2 separate regions of the Homo sapiens genome follow, and region 1 is linked to region 2. Evidence: fine-mapped expression QTL. A gene starts in region 2. The other region holds a variant in brackets. All regions are shown on one strand. Distances are between the middles of the regions. Region 1 overlaps AGO3 (argonaute RISC catalytic component 3). Region 2 holds the start of AGO4 (argonaute RISC component 4).

Region 1 (5,378 bases), 130 kb after region 2:
CCTGAGTACTCATTTTTTAGGTCCATACTATTCTAGTCTATGTTTTCAGGTAATGTTAGACTACCGTTTAGGACAGAGGAACTACACTTTATAATGGAAGAAAAACATTTACTTTTACCTTAAATTAATGACATGCAAATTGTTTGATGTTTGGTGGAAGTTTTATACAGTCTTGCAAAAGTGAATAGACTGTTTCTTTCTTATTTACACTTTTAAATTCATGTCTGAAAATAGTTGTTTTAGAGTTCTGTGTTTATTTAATAATAAAAGTTTTAGAAAAGTTATTTGGAACCAAGTTCCAAAGGAATAAAAGTTGCATATATGGGAAGCTAGAACTAAATCAAGATTGGGATTTGAATGATGTAGATAAAAATTATGGGTCAAAAATACCTACTAAAATATGTAATGCCATCAGGGTCCCAATTTAGTATTTAAAACAATCTTCTTTTTATTTATTTATTTTTTTTGAGATGGAGTCTTGCTTGCTCTGTCGCCTAGGCTGGAGTGCAGTGGCATGATATTGGCTCACTGCAGCCTCTGCCTCCTGGGTTCAAGTGATTCTCTTGTCTCAGCCTCCCGAGTAGATGGGATTACAGGCGCGCACCACCATGCCTGGCTAATTTTTTGTATTTTTAGTAGAGACGGGGTTTCACCATGTTGGCCAGGCTGGTCTTGAACTCCTGACCTCAGGTGATCTGCCTGCCTCGGCCTCCCAGAAAACAATCTTCTTTAATAACTTTGAGAAATGTTTTTGTCGTTATATAAATTTTCTCACTTGTAGTTCTTTGCCTTGAAGAAAAAAAATCAAATTACTGCTCTGTCTGTGGGCATGAATTTTGAAAGTGATAAAGGTTTTTCTACTGGGTTGTCACTTAAATTTTGGCTTATGCTGCCCTGGAGTGACCATTATGACTTAAAAAAAATATATTTATTGCACTTGACTGGCAGTGGGACTTATAAAAATGTGCAAGATTGTTTTGATATTTGGTTTAGAATTTCTCTTTCAATGAAGGGACTCCGAGGGAAAACAAAAATTGAGACATAAAATAAATTTTTCCTTCTAAAAAAAGACTTAAGGGAAAAGACATATAGATAACCTTCAAATATAATTCAGTTAACATGAAGACATTTACAAAATTACCCATGATTCTATCAGCCTCATATAACCGTTCTTTACATTTTTAAACCAAATTCTAAACTAATCTGTTTAGTTTTTTAAAACTTAAGGAATTAAGTTATTTAGGAAAGCCATTAGAATGAATGAAAAGATATCTACATGCTACTTCATTTTGCTTTTTTGGAGAATTGTATGTAATAAGTTGGTAATTTAGAATTAATTTGTATTAGTTTATATCTTCCAATGGGAACATTGCGTTTTTTAGTTACTGCCTGGCCTGACAGTATGCAAAGAGGCCTGGGGCCCTGTAAAGGGGACATTTCCTGGAAGAATTCTCTGTTGTATATGGAAAAACCCTGGCTCAGAGTAGATTTCTTGCCAAATTGTCTAAGCTGATGGATTCTAGTTGAATACCATTTTGCTTTATAATATAGCCATCTAGTTTCACATCGGTTTCTATATTCTTAAAATACTTGAGGATCTACCTGAAAGGTGAATTAAAATATTATTAATCTAACAAAACATATTATCTTATAGTACTTAAAACTAGAATCTTAAAAAGTAATTTATAAGTTTTTGTTGTTGCTAATGGGTAGGGGAAAAAAGACCAAAGTGATAATTCTGTTTTCAGGAAGGTAAAACTAAAAAGATAATTTATTTAAGATCAGTATCCTTTCCAGACCTGTTTAGTCTCAGACTGTTGAGATGAACAGCATTTACCAGACATTCCTACCTTCTAATTCAGTTGTCTTGGATACTGAATAGACCCTCATTCTTGGCTCATTAACAAAACAGATGTGAGAAAGAATATTGTGTGGTTTTTCAGCCATAATGGTTATGCTGTTAGGATACATGAACAGCCTTTCTGTATTTGGAGTTTCTGTGGTTTTCTGCCATTATCTGTGTTAATATTAATGACTTTCTTTGGCTAGCCACTGCTTAAAAAAAAAAAACCAACTATTGAGATTCAGCAAAACCTTGTCACACAACTGATGCTTTCTCTTATACATTAAAATGTGGGCATTTTGTGGTTTGGTTATAATAAAAAAAAGTGTGCATTAGTCTGAAATGTCAGTTTAAGGAAATGAAGAATTCCTTGTTTTTTGTTTGTTTGTTTGTTTGAGACAGAGTTTTGCTCTCGTCGCCCAGGCTAGAGTGCAATGGTGTGATCTTGGCTCAGTATTTTTAGTAGAGATGGGATTTCACCATGTTGGCCAGGCTGGTCTTGAACTCCTGACCTCAGGTAGTCCACTCACCTCGGCCTCCCAGAGTGCTGGGATTACAGGCATGAGCCACTGCACCTGCCCTAGAATTCCTTGTTTTACATCAGCCAGTTATTTTATACATCATTTCCAAATTGTCAAGTTCTTGGGAAATCAGAACGTGGTATCTACAGTCTATTGATGTGAGACATTTTTAGATTAAAAAAATATTTTTTGTAGAGACGGGATCTTACTATGTTGCACAGGCTGGTCTTGAATTCCTAGGCTCAAATGATCCTCCTGCCTCAGCCTCCCAAAATGCTGGGATTGCAGGAGTGAGCCACCATGCCCACCCATATTTTTAGGTTTTTCATTTGTAGAAGAAATTTTACAAGAATGTGTTCTCAATTGTAAGCTTACATAATACTACTTTTGAGTCATTACTAATACTTGGTATTTTAACTGATTTCTGAATCTTCTAACAATATGAGAGAGACATAGTATTTCTGTGAACTTTAAAAATGATGAAAGAATAGATTGCAAAATGGGCTCTTACTAATAACAAGGGAAATGTCCCCTTTTATTTTCAAGGGAGGAAATGCCTTTTAAAAATTGTTTCTCACTCCTGTAATCTCAGTGCTTTGGGAGGCCGAGGCAGGTGGATCAGCTGAGGTCAGGAGTTCGAGACTAGCCTGACCAAAATGGTGAAACCTCGTCTCTACTAAAAATACAAAAAATTAGCCGGGCATAGTGGCGGGTGCCTGTAATACC[C/T]GCTACTCGGGAGGCTGAGGCAGGAGAATCCTTTGAACATGGGAGGTGGACATTGCAGTGAGTTGAGGTCACGGCATTGCACTCCAGCCTGGGCAACTCAAAAAAAAAAAAAAATTGTTTCCCAGCCGGATGTGGTGGCTCCCACCTGTAATCCCAGCACTTTAGGAGGCTGAAGCAGGCAGATCATGAGGTTAGGAGTTCAAGACCAGCCTAACCAACATGGTGAAACCCCATCTCTATTAAAAATACAAAAATTAGCTGGGCATGGTGGCGTACACCTGTAATTCAGCCACTTGGGAAGCTGAGACAAGAGAATTGCTTGAACCTGGGAGGCGGAGGTTGCAGTGAGCCAAGATCGTGCCACTGCCCTCCAGCCTGGACCACAGTGCGAGATTCTGCTCAAAAAAAGAAATAAATTGTTTCCCATACTGCCACCTGATAAGCTTAACCCTCAACTGGCTGGATGTTCTATAAGTGATTATTTAATTGTAATGAGCCTAATAATAAGTGCGGTATGTTTGGACAGATTCATTGAATGAAAAAGTGGAATTAGCAGGTAGGAGGTTCCTGAAGTTCCATGCTGTTTACTACGTAGCTTTGCAGACTTAACATGTATAAAATCAGAGACATTTCATTAAGTCAGATTTTGAGATCAACACAATATATTTCTTTTTCCAAAACAAAAATGTATTCTTTTTTTTTTTTTTTTTTGAGACGGAGTCTTGCTCTGTCGCCCAGGCTGGAGTGCAATGGCATGATCTCGGCTCACTGCAACCTCCGCCTCCTGGGCTCAAGCAATTATCCTGCCTCAGTCTCCCTAGTAGCTGGGATTACAGGTGCCCGCCACCACGTCCAGCTAATTTTTGTATTTTTAGTGGAGATGGGGTTTCACCATGTTAGTCAGGCTGGTCTTGAACCAGACCTGACCTCAGGTGATCCACCCTTCTTGGCCTACTGAAGTGCTGGGATTACAGGTATGAGCCACTGTGCCCGGCCCAAAAATGCATTCTTTTTCCAATTATAAAATAATAACTACATGTTTATTACTTTAAAAAACAAACGATATAAGAATGTCTCAAATAGAAGATGAAAGTATGATCCTATCCTCCAGATGAAACCATTGTTAACTCTTTCTTGTATATCTTCCCAGACATCCATCCGTCTGTCCATATATTTATCATACGAATTGTTTCTAACCTTCTTTTTCCACTTAGTAATGTGTCGTAAGTATCTTTCCCATATCATTACTTACATCTATATAATAGTATAATAATTTATACTGAGTACATAGCATTTAATTTTATCTGTATATTGATCAGTCTCATTGATAGTGGTTTAGATTTTTTCCAGTTTTTTGTTATTATGACTAAAACTTTGTAAGTATTCTAGTACATATGTGTTTGTATACTGGTCCAGTGCTTGCTTTTGGATAAATTGTTAGAAGTAGAATTATTGAAACAGTATTCCATGAATATTAAAGAAAATGTTTCCAGTGAAAATCTATAAGTTAGTAATTGGCTATAGTATATGTTATAGTTGATTTTGATTTATTCACTGCTTGTTTTTTTTCATCAGTCACATTTGCTGTAGGCTATTGTTTAGCTTTAGACTTTCCAACTGGTACACATTGGATTACTAGATGAGTGAACAACATGGACACATGTATGCTTTGGAAATGTATGGTTTTATGTTTGAAATTTAGTTTGGTTAGTTATTATCCAGTACATACAATAACTGCTGAAAGAAAAGTTTGATATAGGGAGAAAGTCCAGATAGTGCTTTGTATTTCTGTGTAGTTATATTTCCAACTCTAGTGGGCAGTATGTATTTGTTAAATAACTAAAATATGCTTCATTGGAAGTATAATTCATTGTATTGACAGAATTGTTTCATCTGCTAATTTACATTATTATGTAATGTAAATATTTCATAATATTCTGGATATTATGAAAATATCCAGAATATTTTCTGGATACTAAACTTGATTAGTATCTATAGAATTCTGTTCATTGCTTATTCATGCAACAGAATTTTGCTTTGTGCCAAATTATTTAAAAAGCACCAGGTAAAGTAATGACCATGGAGAAAAAAATTGACAGTATGATATAGTGTAAAAAACATGGGTTTTAGAGACAGATTCTGGCTCTTAAATTAACTGAAATTTATTAATGATGTGTCGGTATAGGTTTGAGTGCAAATGTTCTCCTCTTGTAGAGGATGTTGATAGTAGGGTGTCTGTGTGTATGTCAGGGCAGGAGGCCTGGGACATATGGGAAATCTCTACCTTC
Region 2 (5,378 bases):
CCAGAGTAGCTGGGACTACAGGCGCCCGCCACCACACCCGGCTAATTTTTTGTATTTGTAGTAGAGACGGGGTTTCACTGTGTTAGACAGGATGGTCTCGATCTCCTGACCTCATGATCCGCCTGCCTCGGCCTCCCAAAGTGCTGGGATTACAGGCGTGAGCCACCGCGCCCGGCCAACTCTAGTTGGTTTTTCTTTTCTTAGCTGTGCAGCAGTCTGATCGTTTAGTAAATACTTTCTCCCCTTTGAACATTCTGTCCCCTATTACTATTTCCAGTTACTATCTGGTTTAACAGAGAGGTAGCATGATGCTGTGAAAAGAATATAGAGTATGGTGGCCGGGCATGGTGGCTCACGCCTGTAATCCCAGCAGTTTGGAAGGCCGAGGCGGGCGGATCACGAGGTCAGGAGATCGAGACCATCCTGGCTAATATGGTGAAACCCCGTCTCTACTACAAATACAAAAAATTAGCCGGGCGTGGTGGCGGGCACCTGTAGTCCCAGCTACTCGGAAGGCTGAGGCAGGAAAATGATGTGAACCCGGGAGGCGGAGCTTGCAGTGAGCCGAGATCGCGCTGCTGCACCCAAGCCTGGGCGACAGAGCGAGACTCCGGGTCAAAAAAAATAAAAGAATATAGGGTATGGTATCAGTAGACAAGAATGTAGGCACTAGATTAAAAGTCCCAGTTCCGGCCGGGCGCGGTGGCTCAAGCTCGTAATCCCAGCACTTTGGGAGGCTGAGGCGGGCGGATCACAAGGTCAGGAGATCGAGACCATTTTGGCTAACACGGTGAAACCCCGTCTCTACTAAAAATACAAAAAAAAATTTAGCCGGGCGTGGTAGCGGGCGCCTGTAGTCCCAGCTACTTGGGAGGCTGAGGCAGGAGAATGGCGTGAACCCGGGAGGCGGAGCTTGCAGTGAGCCGAGATGGCGCCACTGCACTCCAGCCTGGGCGACAGAGCGAGACTCCGTCTCAAAAAATAAAAAATAAAAAAATAAAAGTCCTAGTTCCATAGCCAATCAGGGAGAGAATTAGCCAGGACTTAAATGCAAGATTTGAACTCCAATTTTTCCCATGCTTCACTTCAGCATCATGTAATGCAAAGCCCGACTTACTTAACTTCCCTGAGCTTCGGTGTCATCATCTGTACAAATACCTTTCTTAACAATATCTACCTTACTGGTGGTTGTAAAGATTGAGTGACAATGAGAAGCCCATAGCAGAGTGCATGGCCAGGATGTGATGCTAATATTTTTTATCATTACATAAAAAAACTACCTGGCTCTGTGACAGCACATGGCAGGTGCTCAAATGAATATCCCACCACACATGCTAGGGGCCTAAATTATCCCCCACCCCAATAATTTGTATATTGAAGTCCTAACTCTAGCACCCCAGGATGTGACTGTAATTGGAAACAGGGTCTCTGAAGAGGTAATTAAATTAAAACGAGGTCACTAGAGTGAGCCCTACTCTAATAGGACTGCTGTCCTTATAAGAAGAGGAAATTTGGACACAGACGTGCACAGAGGGAAGACCACGTGAAGTCACTGGGAGAAGGCCACTATCTACCAAGTGAAGGAGATAGGCCTCAGAAGGAACCAACCCTGCCTACATCGTATCTCTGACTGCCAGCCTCCAGAATTGTGAGAAAATAAATTTCTGTTGTTTAAGCCACCCAGTCTGTGGTACTTTGTTACGTTATGCCGTAGCAAAGGAATACAACACACACACACAAACTCATCGTACCTTTTCAATTGGTGGACAAGGGGCTCCTTCCTTCTGCTGACTAGAAACTGCTTCTTGGCCTGTTGTCCAGTGTTCTCCCACTCAAAGTCCTTACTGAAAGCCCTAAAGATGCTGTGCCTGCTGGGCTGACCATGCTGCCTTGGAGGTGGTGCTGCTCCCTTGGCTTTTGTCTGCTAAGGGGAAGGCATCCAAGAAAGCAAGACCTTTCTCTCTCTCTCTCTCTTTTATTTTTATTTTTTTTTTTTCAGACAGTCTTGCTCTGTCGCCCAGGCTGGAGTGCAGTGGCCCGATTTCGGCTCACTGAAACCTCTGCCTCCCGGGTTCAAGCGATTCTCCTGCCTCAGCCTCCCAAGTAGCTGGGATTACAGGCGCCTGCCTCCACGCCCGGCTAATTTTTTGTGTTTTTAGTAGAGATGGGCTTCCGCCATGTTGGCCAGGATGGTCTCAAACTCCTGACCCCAGGTGATCCACCCGCCTCCGCCTCCCAAAGTGCTGGTATTACAGGCGTGAGCCACCACGCCCGGCCAAGACCTTTCTCTTCTAAAGTGACTGGTGATTTGCTGACCAGAGGCGCTTGTCATGGGACCAGGGAGGGAATGCATCATTCATCAGGGTCCATTCCCGTGGTGCCTTCCGGCTATACGGAGAGGGACGCGCAGTTGGGTGTGTGGTGCTGAATGAAGGGATGAAGGAGGACTGCTAGCGTCTAAGGTGACCCTAAAAGACGAGATGACAGAAGCGATCTGGGGTGGGAGGAGGGAGGAGGGAGGCGAGGTGGCTCCTGTGAATCTCAGTACACTTTCCACTCACAGAAGTGGAAAACTGAATCTGTGGGTCAGCGGAACTGGAATCCAGATCTTTTGCAGGACGCCCTGGGGGGATGGCACGTAGCCCCCAGAGCCGTTGGCCACCGGACGGCCTCCTCGGGTGGACGGGGCAGAGCGGGCCAGCGGGCGCGTGCCCGACACGTCCACCGGGCTCTGCACCCTCCGGGCGCGCGCTCGTTCCCCGACCCGCCTCGCCGCCTGCCGGGCTCTGTGGACCCCGCGCCCGGGGCCGCGCACGCCCCCTCCGCCCGCCGGGACCCTGGGTCCGCGCACCCCGCGCCCCCTTCCCTCCCGGCGGGCGCGCGCGCTGGCTCCCGCTCCCGCTCCCGTTGGCGGCGGCGGCGGCGGCGGCGGCGGGGATTGTTTTTGTTGTCGCTGAGGCCGGAAGAGCCGGAGCCGGGTCCCTGTCCCCGGGCCGGGCGCCGCCGCCGCCCCCTGCCCAGCGCCCGCGTCTCCGCGGCGCCACCCCAGCGCCAATATTCCGGAGATCAAGCGTTACGCGGCGGCGGCGGCGGCGGCGGCGGGGCCCGGAGCGGGAGGCGCCGGGGACCGGGGCGAGGCGGCCCCCGCCGCCGCCATGGAGGCGCTGGGACCCGGTGAGGAGCGAGCTCGGGTCGGGGCGGGACCCGGGACCCGGGACCCGGGGCGGGCGGCCGGGACTTTCGCTGCCCCGTCGCCTCGCCGGGTTCGGGCCGCCAGGCCTCGGGGAAGGGGACCCGAGCCCCGCAGCACGAAGCGGAGGGAGCTGACCCGGGCCTGGGGGGCGGTGACCGCGCCCCAGCCGGCCGTTGGGTGGATCCCGAGGTCCAGGGGGGAGGTTCGGGAAGGTGACCGGCGCTGCCGGGCGGAGGCCACTCTTGGCCCCACCTCGGGGAGACGATATGTGCCCGGGGTCGCGACGAGGGTAGTTTGGGCCTCAGAAGGGGGCGATCCGCTACCCAGTGCGCGCGGAGGCCTGGCCCAGACCGGGAAAAGGGCCCCGCTGCCTACTACCAGCCGGTAGTCCTGGTTTGGGGCCGCGCCCCTATTTTTCTTTGCACTGGCAGATGGTCCAGAGCCTTCAGATGAGGAAGAAGAACTTCATCCAAACACCTCTCATGATCTCTGAAGGTCAAGGGACAAAATGCCCACCCTTTCTGAAAGGCCCTGATGTCCCAAAGAACATGGTCCTGTGCCTCTGTCACTCAGTCTGTGTGTTAGTCTCAGAGTGGTCTGAGCCAGCCTTTGAGTGACACAGGAGTTGCCAGTCAGTCTGCTCCACCACAGGCTTCAATGCCCTGAGTTCTCTTCTAATTGGGTTATGAGTGGTTGTGAGGATCAAATGAAGGAGAAAGTGCTTTGGAAACTAATTTGTTGTGGATATGGATGGCCTCTGGTTATTTCTCTCTATCCAAACCAGAAGAACCATTCCAGGCTGTAACAAGTGTCCTGAGTATTGGGGCCTGGTGCTTCCACCTCAAAGCCCAACAGGTTTCTAATGCCTTGGCTAAGTAGCTCAGTGTTTAGGGGCTGTGGTGGAATTCACTTTAATATTCAAACTTTACCTACATAATGAACTTAGTCGTAGAGTGTTTCATCTTTTTAGTGCGTAGAAAATTCGAGTTGCCATTTGAGTTTGGAAACTTGGCACGTTTGTTTACTTAGCACTTGTTTGCATAGCTGAGTGATTAAGCCCCACCCTAATTTGCTTCTTAAAGTATTGTTTAAAGGCCCTCATAATCAAATTTCATATGCCTTTTAAAAATAAATTGGCTTGCCGCATTAATATTGTTTGATAAACTTCAGTGTATTATGCCAGGTTAACTTCAGATATGTCCCCTGGCTAAAGACATGCTCAGGTCTTTAGGAATGTAACAGATTCAATCTAGTAATGTAATAGTTGTATGACCCTGGGAAAATTACTCAATTCCTTTGAACTTTCATTTTCTCGTCTATAAATTGAGGGTAATAATAAGTATGTTCTGTAAGATTGTTGAGAGAATGAAATGAGAGTATATGATAAGTCTTATTGTAGAGACTAGTGCCTATAGATGCTCAACAGATGTTTCTTCCCTCCCCCTAGTAATTCATAATTGAAACAACTGTTGCATTTATGATCTGATATCGAAAGAAATTGTGTAACTGTGGGCATAAACTGAATTTCATGGAAAGGATCAACCTGGTGATATTAGGCACTGCCCAGGGACTCTTTTTTTTTTTTGTTTTGATTTTAGCTTTTGCAGGTTTGAGGACTTAGTGGTTCACTCAGGATTGTTCAGATTGTGGAAAATTAATTCTCACTAACCACATTTATAAGACACTAATGAATAAGCCAAAATGTCACATGGATCTTTTCTGTTGAGTGGAATATTTTCCTGTCTGCTCTCTAGCAAACTCCTTTTTTGGTGTTGCAGTACCTTGGAAACCCAACTAATAAGTAGCTGCCTGCTAAGCATAGAATCAGAGCAAAGGGAGTTGATCGTCTTGTGGGATGATTCATCCAGGCTGTTTTAGAACCTAGAGAATCATCCCTGCTTCTTTGGCAGAGCACACCTGGATCTAGTGCTTTGTGCCCTCCTCACTTGAACAGTCCCTGAAGCCTTCTAGTCTTGTTCTATCCCTCCCTGCCCACCGCCTCCCTGCAACCTAGTTCAGTTTCTGCCAATACTCAGAAATATAATTAATTAGATTTCCACTTATTTTGGTAATATGTTGTTTGCAGTACTTTATAGTTTGTAAAGTGCTTTTATGACTATTAGCTCATTTGATCCTCTGGGAGGTAGGCAGGGCAGGTAGTTATTCCATTTTACAGATGAGAAAA

What was found.
Region 1: its variant is fine-mapped to the expression of AGO4 in whole blood (TOPMed, PIP 0.95).

Annotation. Positions count from the first base shown.
Region 1 is chr1:35,934,198-35,939,575 of GRCh38, forward strand. All of the region lies in intron 1 of AGO3 (argonaute RISC catalytic component 3), which reads left to right. Among named protein-coding and RNA genes, the nearest start is that of AGO3, 5.8 kb to the left of the region's middle. The variant C/T (reference allele first, on the strand shown) is at 3,091.
Region 2 is chr1:35,805,262-35,810,639 of GRCh38, forward strand. It overlaps AGO4 (argonaute RISC component 4), which reads left to right and starts at 2,755. Exons shown (of 18, transcript NM_017629.4): 1 at 2,755-3,174. The coding sequence starts at 3,156. It overlaps CLSPN-DT (CLSPN divergent transcript), which reads left to right. Exons shown (of 3, transcript NR_199050.1): 3 at 1,484-1,679. RefSeq lists enhancers at 1,929-2,428, 3,528-3,807 and silencers at 2,638-2,847, 3,128-3,377.